Linked DNA regions of Homo sapiens: region 2 is linked to region 1. The links come from fine-mapping of genetic effects on gene expression. A gene starts in region 1. The other region holds a variant in brackets. All regions are shown on one strand. Distances are between the middles of the regions. Region 1 holds the start of CPNE7 (copine 7). Region 2 overlaps CPNE7 (copine 7).

What was found. PIP is the estimated chance that this variant, and not a neighbour inherited with it, causes the effect.
Region 2: its variant is fine-mapped to the expression of CPNE7 in whole blood (Lepik 2017, PIP 0.95).

The regions. Positions count from the first base shown.
Region 1 is chr16:89,571,282-89,581,310 of GRCh38, forward strand. CPNE7 (copine 7) reads left to right here and starts at 4,477. Exons shown (of 15, transcript NM_153636.3): 1 at 4,477-4,790; 2 at 6,258-6,440. The coding sequence starts at 4,617. RefSeq lists silencers at 2,683-2,940, 3,401-3,630, 3,871-3,940.
Region 2 is chr16:89,594,198-89,604,226 of GRCh38, forward strand. It overlaps CPNE7 (copine 7), which reads left to right. Exons shown (of 15, transcript NM_153636.3): 14 at 1,170-1,406; 15 at 2,287-3,049. The coding sequence ends at 2,424. Among named protein-coding and RNA genes, the nearest start is that of DPEP1, 14 kb to the right of the region's middle. RefSeq lists an enhancer at 5,337-6,250. The variant C/G (reference allele first, on the strand shown) is at 5,300.

The DNA.
Region 1 (10,029 bases):
AGGTGAGCGGGGACGGGAGGAGGTGAGTGGGTACAGGCGGTCCGGGGGCCGGGGAGGTGGTCCAGGGGCCCAGGGCCACTGCTGGTCAGCAGGCTTGGCAGTCAGAAAGAAGAGAGGACCCAGGAGTGGGGACAGTGGGACCAGGAGCCCAAGTCCTGGGGACTCTGGGATGGCTGGTGCCTGAGTCTGAGCACAGAGGGGTCCTGGCTCAGGAGGGCCAAAGGGGGTGAGGAAGAGCCAGTCCCGGACGGTGTCCCCAGCGTGCAGTCCTGGGCAGGGACCCTGACCCCTGGGTCTCACTGCACAGGGGCTGTGAAGTCTGGGCCCCTCCACAGTAAGTGCTCCTGAGGGTCTGCTGGGAACATTCTGGGCAAGGGCAGCAAAGCCATCAAGCCACGCCGGGGGCTGGACGGGCGAAGGAAGGCGTGAGGGCTGGGTTCTGAGCGGGGTTCCAGTTCCACCCCAGGGCCTGGACGGGCCGAGGAAGGTGTGAGCGCTGGCTTCTGAGCTGGGTTCTGGGTTCCAGCTCCACCCCTGCTGTGTGGTCTCAGCCACCACAACGCCCTCTCTGAGCCATGTCTCCCGCCAGCAGTGGTGTCTCCTGCTGGGCAGAGATGCTGGGGGCTGGGATGGTCTGCTCCTGGCTGCATGCAGACAAGGGGCAGGAGGGATGGCGGCCCGGGGCTGCACGCGAGAACGCGCCTGGAGGAGAAGGGAGTCTCGAAGAAGGGGGTCTCATCCACACCCAGAAGACGGTGTTGGGGGAAGGAAGTGGAGGAAGGGGACCCCCTGGTTGGAACATATGTTGCCCTGGGGTGGCCTGTGTCTGCGCTTGTGTGTCTTGGGTGCCTGGCGTGTCTGCGTGTGGGCTGTCTCTCCATGAGTACGTGCACGTGTCTGCGGTATTTGGCACACGTGTGTGGCGTGTGCTCGTGCGTGCCTGCATGTGCTGAGTGTGGTGGAGGAGAAAGTCCCCCTAATCAGTCCCCAGGTCTCTGAGGCTGTAACAAGGTCAGCGAGGAACTGAGACTGGCCAGGTGTGTTGTCTCAGCCAACAGCCGGCGTGGCCGCCTCTGGGCATGGTTGATTTCTCAAATAAGATCAGCATCAGATCCTGCAGGAAGACAATCTGATCCAGACAGGTTGCAGATGTTCTAAGATAAAATAACCTTTCTTTAGGAGGAAAGAAAAGAAGAGGGTAGGTTTGCAACCAGATTAAAAAAAGCAGCACCCATCCGGACACGTGGAGAGCTGTTTCCTGTTAAACAATCCTGTTAGTAACCCCCACCCTCTGCAATTTCTTGTTTTGAGGCAACTTCTGGGACAATCTCTCCACATGAAGGGCAGGTTCGAGGACCCTGCATTCAGGGGTGGGGACCGAGCCCCGGACCGGTCCACTGGAGCACACCAGCTGTGTGCTCAGGACGGCCAGGGAGGAGGCCATGGACTCTGGACCTGGCTCAGGGACAAAGGGCTGTCAGAGTGTGGGGGAGAGCACTGGCTCCAGGGGATGTGCCTCAAGGCAGTAGCAGTGGGCCTGGGGTCTGCCGGGAACCTCTGGAGGCCCTGGACAGGTTTCCCTGCTCCCGGTTGGCCTCGTGGCCAGTGTTACTGAAATGGGAGATGGGGACTCTGTGACTGATGGAGATGACACCCTCGAGGCAGATCCAGGACCAGAGAGCAGCCACCAGAGCTGCGTTTCATTCGCTGATCCGCACTTCATTCATCCGCCTGGAGTTTGTTGTCTTAGACTCTGTGTTGGGACCTGTACTGGTGTTAACTCAGGCCTCGGTGGACTCCTGGTCCAGGGTGGATGAGGTCATGGGCAGCACAGCCCTGGACAGTGGAACTGATGTTGTGGACGTGTGGGCCGGGAGCCCAGGGAGGGATGTTGGGTGGCGGTTCAGACTGGGCTGGGCTTTGCAGGGTAGGTAGGGGTCGGGTGGTGGGAGAGGCTGAGGCAGAGGCACTTGGGCCTGAAAAGTATCTGAGTCCTGGATGCCAGGAAGCCACACAGGGCACTTGGGCACAGATATGTCATTGCTGCTCCTAAAATTGATCATGTGTAAGCCTCTGGATAGCCGTGGGGGTCGGCACTAATCAGAGGGTCTCATAGGTAACCCAGTGATGAGGGGATCCAGGCTAACCATTGAATGCAATATTGTCAATAAGAAAGAAAAAAGCAGGTTACAGAACAGAAACCATCTGCACCAACACCTATGGTGCTCCAACCGTGCCAGGCAGGGTCCCGGGCCTGGGCCGCGTGATGAGCCTGGCGTGGGGTCCCGGGCCTGGCCCGCGTGATGAGCCTGGCGTGCAGATACTGAAGAGTCCTCTCAAGTGTGGGAAGGGCTCTGAGAGTTAGGCACCTTTTTTTTTTTTTTGACAATTAAAAGAAATTTGCACATAAAAAAAAAAACCTGGAGGGTTAGATGTGGGGAGGTGATGGGCTGCTTTGGGGTCTGGAAATTTGTTTTTACTCCCTATCTGCATTGTCTAATATTTCAACAAGGAACACGGTTATTATTCCTGCGTGTATGTGTGTGGATCTCATTTCCTGTGTCTGGCCCTGCAGGGAAAGCTGGGAGGGGGAGCCTTGGAAAGATGGCTCCACATGGCCTGCGGGGTCCTTCCATTGTACCTGGGCCTACTGCGGGCTGATCCCTGAGCAGGGGCAGGCAGCGTCCAGACACCAGTGCCACAGGGGAATCGGCTTTTCCTTCTGTGGTTTCTCTCCATTAGAGCAGGCTGCAGTCAGGGCTGTCAGTCAGGAGACAGCAAGCCGGCCGAGGGCTGTGGCTGGAGATCCCAAATCGCCCTGGGCTTCAGAGACTCAAATTCCCAAACTCTGTGATCTTTCTTGGCTCCCTGCGTCCTTTGCTTGGAAGCCATCTGTTATTTTGCCAGGGTGCCGCTATGTGACAGCCAAGGGCTGAACTGGGGTGTTCCAGGTTTAAGCCGGGTACCCCTCAGACAGCCTGGTGGACCTCAGGCCTCACGCCACACTGCAGACGAGCAAACCTCAGGGCGGTGGTGAGGAGCTTTCGGGTGAGGTCAAGGCAGGAAGCGGAGCTTGGTCTGGGGAAAACTGTCCCAGGGCTGCTGGAACCGAGCGGGAGGCACGGCCTGCAGGAGCTGCCTGGGCGCCCGCACCCTTTGCCTGAATTTCGCATCCTTTTCCCATGGAAGTGGTTGGGGACCGAGGATGTGGCCTCCCGGCAGCCTGGAAGGCTGGGCTGAGGAGGACACAGGGCCGGGAAGGCCCAGACTGGTCCCTAGAGAGCGGGACTGGCCTCTGCCCACTGCGGGCTTCAGGGAGGAGGCGCAGAGGCCGGGGAGACAGCAGATGGGGCCCTGCAGGCCTCGCTGCGCCCTGACCTGTTCCTCGCCTCTTTAGCCAACCTCCCGGGAAGGCAGGAGCCGGTCTCCATGGCCTCTCCCGGCCCTGCCAGCCCCGTGGGGCCTCCCCGCCCTGCAGCCGCGCCCGGCGCCATCCCGCCGTCCGACCGCGAGGGGACGCCGCTGGCCGCGTTCCTCCTCCCAGGCCGAGGCTGCCTGTGCTGCCTCCCGCCGGCGGGGCCCTGAGCCTCCTCGCCCTGTCGGCGGCGGTCCCCTCTGACCGCAGGGTCTTCTTCTAGAGTCCTGATCGCCGAGGCTGAGCGGAGGCGCCCGGTCTTCCCGCCTCTTCAGTCTTAATGTCTCCCTCACCCTCGCCCCCCACCCCCGTGGCTTTTGGCGAGGTCCGTGCCCTATTTTTAGGCAGAAATCGGCAAAAAGAGTGGACTGCGAGGTGGTTTCTGTCCCCGCCGACGCCTCCTCTTCCGCTGCTCCCTCCCCCGGGACCGGTGATGGGGAAGGTGGGGGAGTGAGTTCAGGGCGGAGCGGGCCCACCCCCCACGGAACCCAGGCCTGCCCCGCCCCGCCCCGGCCTCGGGGGACTGGTGTGGACCGTGCCCCGCGGACCCCTCGGAATCAGACCGCGATTCAGCCCTCGGCCCCCCGGGACGGTCCTTCCAGCCCCAGACGAGCGCGGCGCCTGCACACAACAGGCGCCCACTAAATGCTTGTTGATGGAGGTGGCGAGTACCCGAAACCAGCGGAGCCTGGAAATGGGATCCTAGAGATCCGGGAAGGGCGCGGGGATCTGGTGCCAAGCTGGGGTCCCCCTTTTGCCTCCCCTAGTGTCTGCCTGGGTCCGAACCCGGGCTCAGGCCCCGCGCAGCTCGGAGCCTCCAGCCCGGAGCCGGTCCCTGGGCCGGGGATGCGCACAGCCGGGGAGGGCGCGCCCGACCTGACCCCAAAGCTATCAGTTGGGGGGGGGGTCCCCGGGGAATTAGAAGCTGTCTCCTCCCGGGCATCTCCGAGGGGCACCCCTGCCTCTGCCCCCTGCCCTCATTTCCCGCCGCGCCCCTCCCCGGCCCCGCCCCCCGGCCGCGCCCCACCCCCTGCAGTCCCCGCGCGGCGGCCGCCCGAGCCACGTGCGCCCGCGCCCGGCAGGCGTTCAGGGAAGCGCGGCCACGCCTGGGCCGGCCACCATTTCCCGGGCGCCGCGGCGGCGCCGACTCGCGGGCAGCGGCCCCTCAGTGCGCCCAGCCGGGCCCCCGAACGCCGGGAGCATGAGCGCGGGCTCGGAGCGCGGGGCGGCGGCAACCCCCGGGGGTTTGCCCGCGCCCTGCGCCTCGAAGGTGGAGCTGCGGCTCAGCTGCCGGCACCTGCTGGACCGCGACCCGCTCACCAAGTCCGACCCCAGCGTGGCGTTGCTGCAGCAGGCGCAGGGCCAGTGGGTGCAGGTAGGGCCGGGGCGTGGGAGGCCGAGAGGCCACCGGGCCGGGGCTGGCGCCGAGCTGGGGATGCGGAGACCAGAGCGGGCGCGCTGAGGCCAGTGGGGCGCAAGGCGGGGCCCCCCGGAGCTGGGGCTCAGCTCGGGGTCAGGGTTGGGGGTTACCAGGTCTGGGGGTGGGGTGTCCAGAGCTGTGGGGAGAGGCTGGGCTGGAGGAGGTGGCGGCGAGCGGGGTTCGGAGGAGAGAGGGGGGTGCCCCGCAGTGAGGGGTGCGGCCCAGGGTTCGGGGAGGGGGCCCCGGGCCAGAGTGAAGCGCCCAGGCATGAGGCGCGGGCAGGGGGCTCGACCAAGAGGCGCAAGGAGATTGAGGGGTGAGGGGCGCCGGCCGACGGGGGGCGGGAGGCTGGGCGGGAGCAGGCCGGCGAGGGAGCGCGCGCTGGGGTGCGGACCTCCAGGCGTCCGGGGCTCCCGCTCCAACGTGGGTCTCAAGCGAACCCGCTGTGATCGCGGTTGGGGTCCGAAGGGGCACGGGGCCGGCGCCAGACGGGCGCTTCCTCGGTCACCATCTCGCGTGAAACGCGTGGCTTCACCTCGAAAGGGCGAGAAACGCATGGCGCGAAGCCGCAGCGGGCGGAGGAGCCGGAACTCGAACCCCAGTCCGCGCGGGGCGCCAGCGCTTTTCCCCGGCGCAGGGGTCTCTCCAGGCTCCAGCGCGGGCCCGGGCGGCTGCTCGGGCGGTGGAAGGGACGCGGTCACCCGGTGGCGTCTCCGGTCATCCACCTTGAGGGTGAAGGGCCTGCCCCGCCCTCACCGCCTGTCCCCAGGGTTCCGGCTGCCCCCGGAGGCCCCGTGCCCGCCCCTCACAGCCTGAGCCCACCCTTCACATCCCGAGCCCACCATCCCCACGGAGGCCTCGTGCCCGCACCCTCAGAGCGTGAGCTGTACGGGTGGCCCATGTTTGCCCTTGGTTTGAGGTGCAGGATTTTTCAGGATTCTGAAATGAGTAGCCTACTGGCCCAGCTGGGTCTTGTCCTTACGGGGCAGTTGGACCAGGGAACTGCATGGGATGGGAGAGGCTGGTGAGCCCATGGTACCCCAGCCAGGAGGGAGGGCCCCCCTGTACCCTACGCCCCCTCCCCACTCAGCTGGTGCTGGGGAGCGGCCTGCACTTTAGGGCTGCCCAGCCCAGGGTGTGAATCTGATCTCGCCCCCGACTCAGCGTGTCATTCTCGTCCTCTGTGAGCCTCACTTTCCCCATCTGTGATCTGAGGGTGGAGCAGACAGTGGTGGCCAGGGGTGACCCCCAGGGTGGCCCTCGGGATTGTGGTCCCATGGACAGAGAGCAGGCAGGAGGTCTTCCCAGGGTATGAGTCCTCCTGAGGTACCTGGGCGTGGGTGAGCGGCAGAGGGGAGATGGAGGTCTGGAGCCCGGGGTGGAAGCCTCTGGAGTGGGGTCGGCTCACAGGTGCACTTGCAGGTGGGCAGAACCGAGGTGGTCCGGAGCAGCCTGCATCCCGTGTTCTCCAAGGTCTTCACGGTGGACTACTACTTCGAGGAGGTGCAGAGGCTGCGCTTTGAGGTGTACGACACGCATGGGCCCAGCGGCTTCAGCTGTCAGGAGGACGATTTCCTGGGGGGCATGGAGTGCACCCTGGGGCAGGTGGGTGCCCCGTCCCCTCGGAGGGAGGAGGACGGTTGGCGTGGGGGCCACAGCCGATTCAAGGCTGATGTACCAGCACCGCAGGGACCCTGCTGGGGTGGCCAACCTGGCTCTGCCCCCTCCTCAGCTCCTCCTGAACAGTCATTATTAGATTAAAATATACATGTAATTTTGAACTGGGTAATACATTCGTATGTTTTAAAGCCTGAAGGTATAAAAGGCTGTGGAGCGCCTCCATCCTGCCCCATCCAGCTGCTGCCAGGTCCCTGGACATTGTCCAGAGAGAGATTTTCACAGGAGCAAACCAGCCTATCACTTTTCCTCTTTTTTCTTTTTTTTCTTTTTCTTTTTTTTTTTTTTTGAGATGTAGTCTCGCTCTGTCACCCAGGCTGGAGTGCAGTGGCGTGATCTCGGCTCACTGCAACCTCCACCTCCTGGGTTCAAGCGATTCTCCTGCCTCAGCCTCCTGAGTAGCTGGGATTACAGGCACCCGCCACCACGCCCGGCTAATTTTTGTATTTTCAGTAGAGACGGGGTTTCACCATGTTGGTCAGGCTGCTCTTGAAATCCTGACCTCGTGATCCGCCTGCCTTGTCCTCCCAAAGTGCTGGGATTACAGGCGTGAGCCACGGTGCCCAGCCCACTTTTCCTCTTTTTTCAAAAATACACAAATTACGTTCCCTGTTCTGCATCCTGCGTTTTCACTTCCACGACGTGCAGCAGCCCCTCCATATCAGCACCTAAAAGTCTCCTGGTGGCCGGCCGTGGTGGCTCACACCTGTGATCCCAGCACTGTGGGAGGCCGAGGCGGGCAGATCACTTGAGGTCAGGAGTTCGAGACCAGCCTGGCCAACATGCTGAAACCTCATCTCTACAAAAAGTACAATAATTAGCCGGGCATGGTGGCATGTGCCTGTAATCCCAGCTACTCTGGAGGCTGAGGCAGGAGAATCGGTTGAACCCGGGAGGCAGAGGTTGCAGTGAGTGGAGATCTCACCACTGCACTCCAGCCTGAGTGACAGATTGAGACTCTGTCTCAAAAAAAAAAAAAAAAAAAGAAGCCTCCTTGTGAGCAGCAGGTCCTACGGTGGCCACTGCTTCCTTGGTGATGCTCTCTGGGTTACGGCCTCCACAGCCAGCCCAAAAGTGGCTTCTGCAAGTCGTGATGAGAGTGTCTGTTGATGTGCTGGGCCCTGCTGGACACTGCGCTAAGCACTTCCTGTGCTGCACGGAATCCTCACACCTTGCCAGGACGGGTCCTTCTTTTTTATTGAGGTAAAATTTACAGGCCGGGCACGGTGGCTCACGCCTGTAATCGCAGCACTTTGGAAGTCCGAGGTGGGGGGATCACGAGGTCAGGAGTTCGAGACCAGCCTGGCCAACATGATGAAACCCCATCTCTACTAAAAATAGAAAAGAAATTAGCCAGGCGTGGTGGTGCGTGCCTGTAGTCCCAGCTACTGGGGAGGCTGAGGCAGGAGAATCACTTGAACCTGGGAGGCAGAGGTTTCAGCGAGCCGAGATCGCGCCACTGCACACCAGCCCAGGTGACAGTGAGTCTTTGTCTCAAAAAAAAAAAAAAATTTTACGATAAAATGCATCAATCTTAAGGGTTGAGAATGACAAGTTTAGGTGACTGTACACAGCTGACCATCACCCGTCACACAGAACATCCCGTCACACGGAACATCTCACCTGTCACACAGAACATCCCTTCACCCCTCACACGGAACATCCTGTCACCTGCTGACACGGAACATCCGATCACCCGTCACACGGAACATCCCATCACACAGAACATCCCATCACTTGTCACATCTCACCCATGACACGGAACATCCCGTCAGCCATCACATCTCACCCGTCACACAGAACATCCCTTCACCCATCACACGGAACATCCCATCACCCATCACATCTCACCCGTCACATGGAACATCCCTTCACCCATCACATGGAACATCCCGTCATCTGCTCACATGGAACATCCCATCACCCATCACACGGAACATCCCATCACCCATCACACAGAACATCTCACCCATCACACGGAACATCCCGTCACCCGCTGACACGGAACATCTCACCCGTCACACGGAACATCCCACACCCATCACACGGAACATCTCACCCATCACACGGAACATCCCGTCACCTGCTGACACGGAACATCTCACCCATCACACGGAACATCCCGTCACCCGCTGACACAGAACATCTCACCCGTCACATGGAACATCCCGTCACCCGTCACACGGAACATCCCATCACACGGAACATCTCACCCATCACACGGAACATCCTGTCACCCGCTGACACGGAACATCTCACCCGTCACACGGAACATCCCATCACCTGCAGACACGGAACATCTCACCCATCACACAGAACATCCCGTCACCCGCTGACACAGAACATCTCACCCGTCACACGGAACATCCCGTCACCCGCTGACACAGAACATCTCACCCGTCACACGGAACATCCCGTCACCCGCTGACACGGAACATCTCCCCCATCACACGGAACATCCCATCACCTGCAGACACAGAACATCTCACCCATCACACGGAACATCCCGTCACCCGCTGACACAGAACATCTCACCCGTCACACGGAACATCCCATCACCCGTCACACGGAACATCCCATCACCCGTCACATGGAACATCCCATCACCCGTCACACGGAACATCCCATCACCCATCACACAGAACATCTCACCCATCACACGGAACATCTCACCCATCACACGGAACATCCCGTCACCCGCTGACACAGAACATCTCACCCGTCACACGGAACATCCCATCACCCGTCACATGGAACATCCCATCACCCATCACACGGAACATCTCACCCATCACACGGAACATCCCGTCACCCGCTGACACGGAACATCTCACCTGTCACACGGAACATCCCATCACCCGTCACATGGAACATCCCATCACCCATCACACGGAACATCTCACCTGTCACACGGAACATCCCGTCACCCGCTGACACAGAACATCTCACCCATCACACGGAACATCCCATCACCCGCTGACACAGAACATCTCACCCGTCACACGGAACATCCCGTCACCTGTAACACGGAACATCCCGTCACCCATCACACGGAACATCCCATCACCCGTCACACGGAACATGCCATCACCCGTCACACGGAACATCCCATCACCCGTCACATGGAACATCTCACCCATCACACGGAACATCCCGTCACCCGCTGACATGGAACATCTCACCCATCACACGGAACATCCCATCACCTGTCACACGGAACATCCCGTCACCCGTCACACGGAACATCCCGTAACCCATCACATGGAACATCCCGTCACCTGTCACACGGAACATCCCATCACCCGTCACATGGAACATCTCACCAATCACACAGAACATCTCACCCATCACATGGAACATCCCGTCACCCGTCACACGGAACATTCCGTCTCCCGCTGACACGGAATATCTGATCACCCATCACATGGAACATCCCATCACCCACTCACACGGAACATCCGATCACCCGTCACACGGAACATCCTGTCACCAGTCACACAGAACATCCCGTCACCCA
Region 2 (10,029 bases), 23 kb after region 1:
GGGGTGGGGGCCTCATCTGGGGTTGGGAGGGGGTGGGGGGCTTTCTGAGGCTGGGCTGTTTATCTGGAGGCCGAGAGCCAGGCTGGGCACAGCCGTGGGTGCTTGTAGGCCTGGACCAGAGACTGCCTTGCAAACAGGTAATTCTTCCCACAGGTGTGGGGCTCAGAGAGGGGGAGATGGGGAGGGCACAAAAAGAGAGCCTCTTGGAGAAGGCGACTCTGAGTGGGGTCCTGGGGCCCCTGTTCGTTTCCAGGACACATCTGCCCTCAGTGGGACGGGCTCAGTCAAGGCCAGCCCAGGGGAGGCTGCTGTGGGCTCCCGCTCTGCTGCTCAGGCGAGCCCTGCTTCTCTTTATGTTTCCCGTTGTCCACAGTTTGGGCAAGATTATTGAGTGGGGTTTTTTTTAAACAATGGAAGTTGATTTTATTTGAAGTTCCATTCTGCCTTTTTTTTTTTTTTTTTTTTTTTTTTTTTGGAGACAGTCTCACTCTATCGCCAGGCTGAAGTGCAATGGCGCGATCTCAGCTCACTGCACCCTCTGCCTCCCAAGTTCAAGCGATTCTCATGCCTCAGCCTCCCGAATAGCTGGGATTACAGGCGCCCACCACCACGCCCAGCTAGTTTTTGTATTTTTAGTAGAGATGGGGTTTCACCATTTTGGCCAGGCTGGTCTCGAACTCCTGACCTCAGGTGATCCGCCCGCCTCGGCCTCCCAAAGTGCTGAGATTACAGGCGTGAACCACCGCGTCCGGCCAACACTCAGTCTTGTGGCAGCACAGCGGGCACCCTGGAGAGACTGGAGCAGGGTGTGTGGGCTGCAGGTCTGGCTCCTGGGATCGCAGATTTCTCCTCTGGCCTCAGACCTCCCATCCAGGCACTGTGAGCTCATCAGTAAAATGTAGACTTCGTAGCACCCCCTCCACAGCCCTCCGTGAGACTCGTGGAGATTTCCTGAGCTGGGCACAGGAGGCCCAGAGTGCCCGCCACGGAGGGGGCTCCTGACCCACTGTTGTTCGTGATGTTTGTGATGTAGGCATCACACTCTGAAGGCGGTTCTAGGAAGCTCTGACGCACGGAGGCACTCTGGGCTGTCTGGGGGCCCGTGGGTTGCAGGGCGCATGTGGGCCATGGCAGGTGTGGTGTTGCTGATGCCTTTCCTGTGCCCCCAGCAATACTACATCCTGCTGATCCTGACGGACGGCGTGGTGACCGACATGGCCGACACACGGGAGGCCATTGTGCGTGCCTCACGCCTGCCCATGTCCATCATCATCGTGGGCGTGGGCAACGCCGACTTCACCGACATGCAGGTCCTGGACGGCGACGACGGCGTCCTGCGCTCCCCACGGGGTGAGCCCGCGCTCCGGGACATCGTACAGTTCGTGCCCTTCCGGGAGCTCAAGAACGTGAGTGTCCTGGAGGGGCTCCGTCAAGGCCGGCTTGGGGGTCCCTGTTCATGTCACTGCCCAAGACCTTCCCAGGCCAGGCTCACGCCAGTGGATGTGGCAGGTCCCTTCTTGTGTCTGGGGGATCCTGGGCTGTTCCCCCCAGTCAAGAGCAGTATCTGAAGCCAGGACTTTGAGCACCTGAAACACCCTCCACCGTTTTGAAACTTGTCGAATCTACACAAAAGCAGAGAACAGCACAAGGGGCTCCTGGGATCCACCACGCGGCTTCCCCCGTTGCTGCCAACCTCTGCGACCCGGCGAGACACGCACAGCACACACGTGAGGTTCTACCCGCCGAGACACACACAGCACACACGTGAGGTTCTACCCGGTGAGACGCACAGCACACACGTGAGGTTCTACCAGGCAAGACACACATGTCACACATGAGGCCCTACAGCAAGACGTGCATGCCACATAGATGTGAAGTTCTACACAGCAAGACACCACAGACATGCATGAAGACACGGACACGTGACATTCTACGCAGTGAAACATGCATATTACAGACACATGAAGCTCTGCAGTGAGTCACATCACACAGACACGCTCAGGCTTTGCCGGGGAAGTGTGGGTGGGGCCTGGACCATGGAGGTGGCCTCGCCTCCCGTGTCAGCACTTTTCATCTCCGTGCTTGGGGGGCTGGAAAGACCCACGTGCAGCCTCATGTGGCCGACATCCTCAGCAAGTCTTGCCCGGCACCCAGGTGAGCCTCTGGTGGGGGTGGGTAGTCACCACTCGGCTCTGGAGGATGAGGCCTGGGCCATAATCCAGTTGCAGGGACGGATGATCTCCATCTCGAAGGTCCCAGAGGTAACTGCGTTGTCCCATCCTCCAGGCATCCCCTGCGGCGCTGGCCAAGTGCGTGCTGGCCGAGGTCCCGAAGCAGGTGGTGGAGTACTACAGCCACAGAGGCCTGCCCCCGAGAAGCCTGGGTGTCCCTGCCGGAGAGGCCAGCCCAGGCTGCACACCGTGAAGATGTGGAGGGCGTAGGGTGGGGGCAGTGAGGAATGGGTCCGTACAGCCTCTGTCTGCAACATGCTTGGGGTCCCTTAAGCTCCCTCCGACCTCCCAGAAGCCTCCAGTCCCCACCAGGCCCCACTCCCAGTCCTCCTGGGATCCTGCTGGCTTGGGCCCGGCTCTGGGGCCCCCAAGGCCGAAGGGTGACAAAATACAGGCCCCCATGCCTGGCCCTGCCTGAGCCAGGTGGGTGGAGGGAGGGAGATCATGAGGGACTTGGAGGGAGCTGGGAGTTCATCCACGGGAGACCCTGCCCCGATGAGAAGGGGCAGGGACTGGGGGCTCTGCTTTGCGTCTAACCTTTGTGGGGGAGGGCCAGCAAGGCAGTCCCCCCACGCCCGAGAAAGCCTGGGGGACCCAGACACCTGTCCCCACAGTCAAAGCCTGGGGACCCAGACATCCTGTCCCCACAGTCAGCCTCCTGTCCCTGCTGGTGCCCCCACACCCACCTACCCTGTGCTTTTTGCCGTCGGGCCTCTGCACCTGGGTCCATGGGGTCTGCGGGGTCTGCGGGGTCTGCCTGGCCTGTGGGTTCTGCCGGTGGGGCTTCAGGAGTAATAAAGTGTCACCCTATCCTTGTAGTTCTCTTGTGCCTTCAGTCCCTTCCCCAACCCCCCAGAGGGCTGGGCCTGGCTTCCAAAGTGCCCACATCTGAGGCAGGGGCTCTCCCAGGCCCAGCACACCAGGATCCTCCCTGGACTGAATGGGATGCGGGATGCACAGGCTGCCAGGGGCAGAGAGCGGGGATCCGCACCATGGCTGCCTCCACCCGCGAAGGAGCTCCACTCGGCTTCCTGGGACTCCCAGGCCTGAAACCCAGTGAGTGAGGACTGTGGACGTGATGCAGGGGTGCCAGGAGCCTCCCACATGGCCTGCACCGCAGGGAGCTGGGCTGGAGGGTGAAGCCTCCATGTGATGTTCGTGGAGCCGGGGCATCTCCCACCTGCTGGGACCTCCTCGCCCTGAGTTTGAGATTTCCCCTGAATGATCTTGCCTGAGAAAAACAAATTGTCCTAACCCTGAATCCAGGCCCACCCATCCCCACATCGGTCCATCCACCCACCCATCCGTCCACCCATCGCCCTGCCCACCCATCCGTCCACCCATCCCCCCGCCCACCCATCCGTCCACCCATCCCCCCGCCCACCCATCTGTCCACCCATCCCCCCGCCCACCCATCTGTCCACCCATCCGTCCATCCATCCCCCCACCCACCCATCTGTCCACCCATCCATCCACCCATCCGTCCACCCACCCATCCGTCCATCCATCCCCCACCCATCCGTCCACCCATCTGTCCACCTATCTGTCCACCCATCCGTCCACCCATCCGTCCACCCATCCCCCCACCCACCCGTCCGTCCATCCATCCCCCCACCCACCCATCCATCCACCCATCCCCCCACCCACCCATCCGTCCACCCATCCGTCCACCCATCCCCCCACCCATCCGTCCACCCATCCATCCACTCACCCATCCGTCCACTCACCCATCCGTCCACCCATTCCCCCGCCCACCCATCCATCCACCCATCTGTCCACCCGTCCATCCATCCACCCATCCGCCCACCCATCCCCCCGCCCATCCCCCCGCCCACCCATCCGTCCACCCATCCGCCCACCCGTCCGTCCACCCATCCGTCCACCCATCCCCCCACCCACCCATCTGTCCATCCATCCACTCTGGGGCCTATTTTTAGCTCTTGCTTCGTCCTCTGTTAAGCAGGGATCATGGGTATCGCCATGGTAACCTGGCCAGTCTGTGAATTTCAGAAGGATCAATGTTGGTCTCTTTGGGGATGGACAGGCCCAGAGATCACCCCTCCATCCACATCTGAGGCTTCAGGCCCTGAGCCGGTCGGGGGGCCTCAGGGGCTGGCCAGGCAGAGGGTGCGTGTCAGGGCCCTGTGCAGGTGTGGGGGGGTCTCAGGCTGGACAGAGGGTGAGTATCCGGGCCTTGTGCAGATCGGAGGTCTCAGGGGCTGGGCAGAGGGTGCGTGTCAGGGCCCTGTGCAGGTGTGGGGGGGTCTCAGGCTGGACAGAGGGTGAGTATCCGGGCCTTGTGCAGATCGGAGGTCTCAGGGGCTGGGCAGAGGGTGCGTGTCAGGGCCCTGTGCAGGTGTGGGGGGGTCTCAGGCTGGACAGAGGGTGAGTATCCGGGCCTTGTGCAGATCGGAGGTCTCAGGGGCTGGGCAGAGGGTGCGTGTCAGGGCCCTGTGCAGGTGTGGGGGGGTCTCAGGCTGGACAGAGGGTGAGTATCCGGGCCTTGTGCAGATCGGAGGTCTCAGGGGCTGGGCAGAGGGTGCGTGTCAGGGCCCTGTGCTGATCGGGGGTCTCGGGCTGGACAGAGGGTGTCAGGGCCCTGTGCAGGTGTGGGGGGGTCTCAGGCTGGACAGAGGGTGAGTATCAGGGCCCTGTGCTGATCGGGGGTCTCAGGGGCTGGGCAGAGGGTGCGTGTCAGGGCCCTGTGCTGATCGGGGGTCTCGGGCTGGACAGAGGGTGTCAGGGCCCTGTGCAGGTGTGGGGGGGTCTCAGGCTGGACAGAGGGTGAGTATCAGGGCCCTGTGCTGATCGGGGGTCTCGGGGGCTGGGCAGAGGTTGCGTGTCAGGGCCCTGTGCAGGTCAGGGGGTCTCGGGCTGGACAGAGAGTGAGTATCCGGGCCCTGTGCTGATTGGGGGTCTCAGGGGCTGGGCAGAGGGTGAGTATCGGGGCTGGGGCCCTGAGCGGGTCGGGGGTCTCAGGGGCTGGGACAGAGGGTGAGTGTTGGTGCCCTGTGCCACCTGCCTGTGGTTTTTGGGCCAGAAAGTGTCAGACGGTTTCTGGGCTGACT[C/G]AAAGTCGAGAGGTGTTGGTCCATTGAGATCTTAGCAGGAAGCAGGTGTGCCGAGGAGTCTACCTCAGAACAGGGTTGGGGCGGCCACAGTGGGGCGCCAGGGAGCTGACCTCAGACAGACAGGGATGGGCAGGTCACTCGGTGAGCTGGCGCCCTGGAGGGAGTGTGTCCCTTCCCAGAACTGCTGCCTTACAGGGATGTGGCCACTCCCAGACCCCTATGGAGCAAGCAGGGAGTGGCTGTGAGCACCCCAGCCCCCTCCTCCCACCCTCTCTTCTCCTGCCGTCCTCCCATGGCAGAAGGCAGCAGCCCTGGGGTCAGGCCAGTGGGCAGGCTGGGCCACCCTGGTCTCTGTGCTGCTGGGTGTCTGGGGTGTGTTTGAGACCATCGAGGGACAGCAGGGACAGGATGGCGTCTGCCAGCTCAGCTCTGAGAATGTGACTTTCGCCAGCAATTCCCAGCCTGAGAAAGCAGCCCAACGTTGCTCAGAGACGCACGCAATAATAATTTGACTTCTCCCCCTAACCCCGTGGGTCACTGGGATGAACACAGGATCCAGGCCTGGCCAGGCAGGGGCTGCTGCCTCCTGGCCACAGTGCTTGCTCCAGGGATGGACGTGCCCCAAGCTGGCCCGTGAGACTCAGTTCTGGGACCCCTTGTTTCTTCCTGGCTTGAGGAGCTGTGGACAGTGACCACTTAGCGGGGTCACATGGGCAGGGCCTGCCTGGGAAGGACACTACCCAGAGAGCTGGTGGCAGGTGCATGCTCAGGCCTGCTCCTGTCAGGCCTGCTCCTGAGCCGATACTTCCCATTGAGGAGCCATGAGCTCCCTTTCTGATTAGCTCAGGTGGGACTGGGTTTCTGTCATTTGCCACCCAAGGATCCTGCCCCAAAAGGATGACAGATGCTCCTTTTTCACAGACAAGAAAATCAGGGTTCAGCACAGTGAGGTGCCCTGCCCAAGGTCACACAGCCAGTCAGAAGCAGAGGTGCTAGCTTTGTGTAGCTGGTGTGCACACACACACAGAGCAACATGTATACACCTGTGCACACACACGCGCACCCACACATCCATGCACACACATGCACCCACACGCACCCACACATCCACGCACGCACACGTGCACCCACGCATCCATGCACAGACATGTGCATACATGCCTAACACATCCACACGGACACGTGCTTAGCCGGGACCTGCAGGCTCCAGGCTGAGTCCTAGGAATTGAGATGCTAGTTCTGCAGTTCCTGTAGGTCCACCTGTCAGGCATCTTCCTCCCCGGGGTGTGACATCCGGCTCTGAAACCCAGAGGGGCCCCTAGGGCAGGGCAGTCAGGGGTCCTGCCGGCCGGTGTGGAGACCCCCAGGTGAGACCAATGGGTTCCCTGAGTCTTCAGCCCCTCCTGACCTCGAATTAGAGCCTGACCCTTGCTGAGAATAGCCTGGGTATGACCTGCCTGGATGTGGACTTATTTCCCAAATAAGAAGCAGAAAGTGTGTAGCTGCCAGGACCCCACAGCAAGGGCCACCATGGGACCCAGTCCAGGGACTGCCTGCAGCAGGCGGAGGAGCTCCTCCTCGGGGGTGGATTTGAGATTTGGAAACAGCCTCAGTCAAGCTGGACACCAGCTCCCGCTGTGTGACCCTGGACAAGCCATCACAGTCTCAGTGAGTCAGAGCCTTGTTCCTTGCCTGTCACGCGGATATAGCAGCTTTGAAACATGGCTCTAGACTCCTCAGCCCCTTCCATTGGAAGTTGGTTTATGTTCCTTCTTCTTGAACCTAGGAAGACTTCGGTCCAATGTGGCTTATTTTTGTTTGTTTTTGAGATGGAGTCTCGCTCTGTCACCCGGGCTGGAGTGCAGCGGTGGGATCTCAGCTCACTGCAACCTCCGCCTCCCGGGTTCAAGTGATTCTCCTGCCTCAGCCTCCCAAGTAGCTGGGATTACAGGCGCGTGCCACCACACCTGGCTAATTTTTGTATTTTTTTTTTTTTTTTTGAGACGGAGTCTGGCTCTGTCGACCAGGCTGGAGTGCAGTGGTGCGATCTTGGCTCACTGCAAGCTCCGCCTCCCAGGTTCATGCCATTCTCCTGCCTCAGCCTCCCGAGTAGCTGGGACTACAGGCGCCCGCCACTATGCCCGGCTAATTTTTTGTATTTTTAGTAGAAACAGGGTTTCACCGTGTTAGCCAGGATGGTCTCGATCTCCTGACCTCGTGATCCACCCGCCTCAGCCTCCCAAAATGCTGGGATTACAGGCGTGAGCCACCGCACCCGGCCAATTTTTGTATTTTTATTTGTATTTTTAGTAGAGACAGGGTTTCACCATGTTGGCCAGGCTGGTCCTGACCTCAAGTGATCCACCCACCTCGGCCTCCCAAAGTGCTGGGATTACAGGCGTGAGCCACTGTGCCTGGCCCCCACGTGGATTCTGACACCCCACGGTAAGAATGCTGGGCGCTGCTCCCGTGCTCAGGAGATGTGGCTCCCGGGAAACTGACGATGCTGCGAGGAAGCTCAAGCGCCCGCACCCCAGCTGAGCTCCCGGCTGGCAGCCAGTGCCAGGGGCCACCATGCGAGTGCACCACCTCCAGCAGCTCCTGTAGCCCCGGGCAGGATGCCCTGCCTGCATCCTCACGAGAGGCCTGAGCCAAAGCCACACGGCAAATCCTCGTGTGGATTCCTGACCCAGGTCGTGGCCCGGGTTAATCCACGGTTGCTGTTCGAAGCCACTCGGTTTGGGCGTGATGAGTCGTAGGGCAGGAGGTAACAGACACATCCTCTTTCCCAGGGATCTTGTGAGGAATGAACGAGGGATGCAGGAGCCCCTGCTGGATAAATAGGTGTCAGTTTCACAAGGGGAGCCGGCTTCTCCTTATTCTCAGGAACCACCAATCACAGCTGCTGAGCATCCCCCACCCTGTCTTGCTGGCCACCGGCTGCCTGGGCCTCACAGGCTGAGGACGCGGGGTCAACCCCTGCCCACCCATGCGCGGAGTCGGATGAGGGCTCTGACTCGGTGGGTGGGGGGGGCAGCTGGAGGGAGTGGGAAGAGCAGCAGCTCAGCGTCCAGGCTGTTCTTTCTCCTGCTGCCGAGGCGAGTACAGGCAGGAAGTTGTGACTAAGTGCTTGTAATTGGTGCGGGGGCTGTGGCAGGGCTGTCAGACAGGAGTACCGCCGGCCCCTGGCACAGCAGGGCCGTGGGCGAAAGCTGTCTTCCTTGCCACCTCACGCCTCACCTGTCCCTGCACTGGGGCCCCACCCCCATCAGAGCCCACCCAGGACCCCTGTCCAGCTGGTGCCTCCCTCCCCTCACCCCATCAAGACCCACCACAGCCCAGGAGTACTGAGTATTCCAGTACTCACTGAGCTAAGTTCCCACAACAACCCCGCCTGGCTGACTGTTGTGAGTGCATCTCACTGACGGGACGGCCGACCTCAGAAAAACCCTAGGTGCACTGCTGGGGAGGCAGGGCAGGGTGGCGAGCTGGGTCTGGCCCCTGGGTTCCCAGCACTCAGCCTGGAGCCCCTAGGTCCTGGCTGAGCACATGTGTGTCTGTTAGGCATGTGTGCGTGCATGTGTGCATAGGCATGTGTGGGTGCATGGATGCACGGGTGCATATGTGTGCATGGGTGTATCTGTGTTGCTCTGTGTGTGCATAGGCATGTATGCATGTGTGCATGTGTGTGCATGCATGTGTGTGCATGGATGTATGGGTGCATACGTGTGCACAGGTGTAGATGTGTTGCCCTGTGCATGTGGAAGAGGCTGGAGTGGGGGTGTTGGTCCTCACTGCTTTACTGAAACATCTTTAGGAGCCCCAGTTGCACTGGGACTTGGCCACACTGCCAGCCCTCCCCATCCCAGGCAGTCAGCATCCAGACCCCAGGTGGAGCAAGTGACGTGCAAGGTCTTGGTGCCCCATTACTCCACCAGGACAGTACATTATCATCCCACTGTGCAGAGAAGCACTGGGGGCTGGAGGGAGGCACTGGGGGCTGGAGGGGGGCACTGGGGGCTGGAGGGGAGCCCTGGGGGCTGGAGGGAAAGCCCTGGGGGCTGGAGGGGAGCACTGGGGGCTGGAGGGGAAGCCCTGGGGGCTGGAGGGGAGCCCTGGAGGCTGGAGAGGAAGCCCTGGGGGCTGGAGGGGAGCCCTGGGGGCTGGAGGGAAAGCCCTGGGGGCTGGAGGGGAGCACTGGGGGCTGGAGGGGAAGCCCTGGGGGCTGGAGGGGACCCTGGGGCTGGAGGGGAAGCCCTGGGGGCTGGAGGGGAGCCCTGGAGGCTGGAGGGGAGCACTGGGGGCTGGAGGAAGCACTGGGGGCTGGAGGGGAGCACTGGAGGCTGGAGGGGAAGCCCTGGGCTGCAGAGGAGCATTGGGGGCTGGAGGGAAGCAGTGGGGGTTGGAGGGGAGCACTGAGGGTTGGAGGGGAGCACTGGGGGCTGGCAGGAAGCACTGGGGGCTGGAGGGGAGCACTGGGGGCTGGAGGGGAGCACTGGGGGTTGGAGGGGAGCATTGGGGGCTGGAGGGGAGCACTGGGGGTTGGAGGGGAGCACTGGAGGGGCTGGAGGGAAGCACTGGGGGCTGGAGGGGAGCACTGGAGGCTGGAGGGGAAGCCCTGGGGGCTGGAGGGGAGCCCTGGGGGCTGGAGGGAAGCACTGGGGGCTGGAGGGGAGCACTGGAGGGGCTGGAGGGAAGCACTGGGGGCTGGAGGGGGAGCCCTGGGGGCT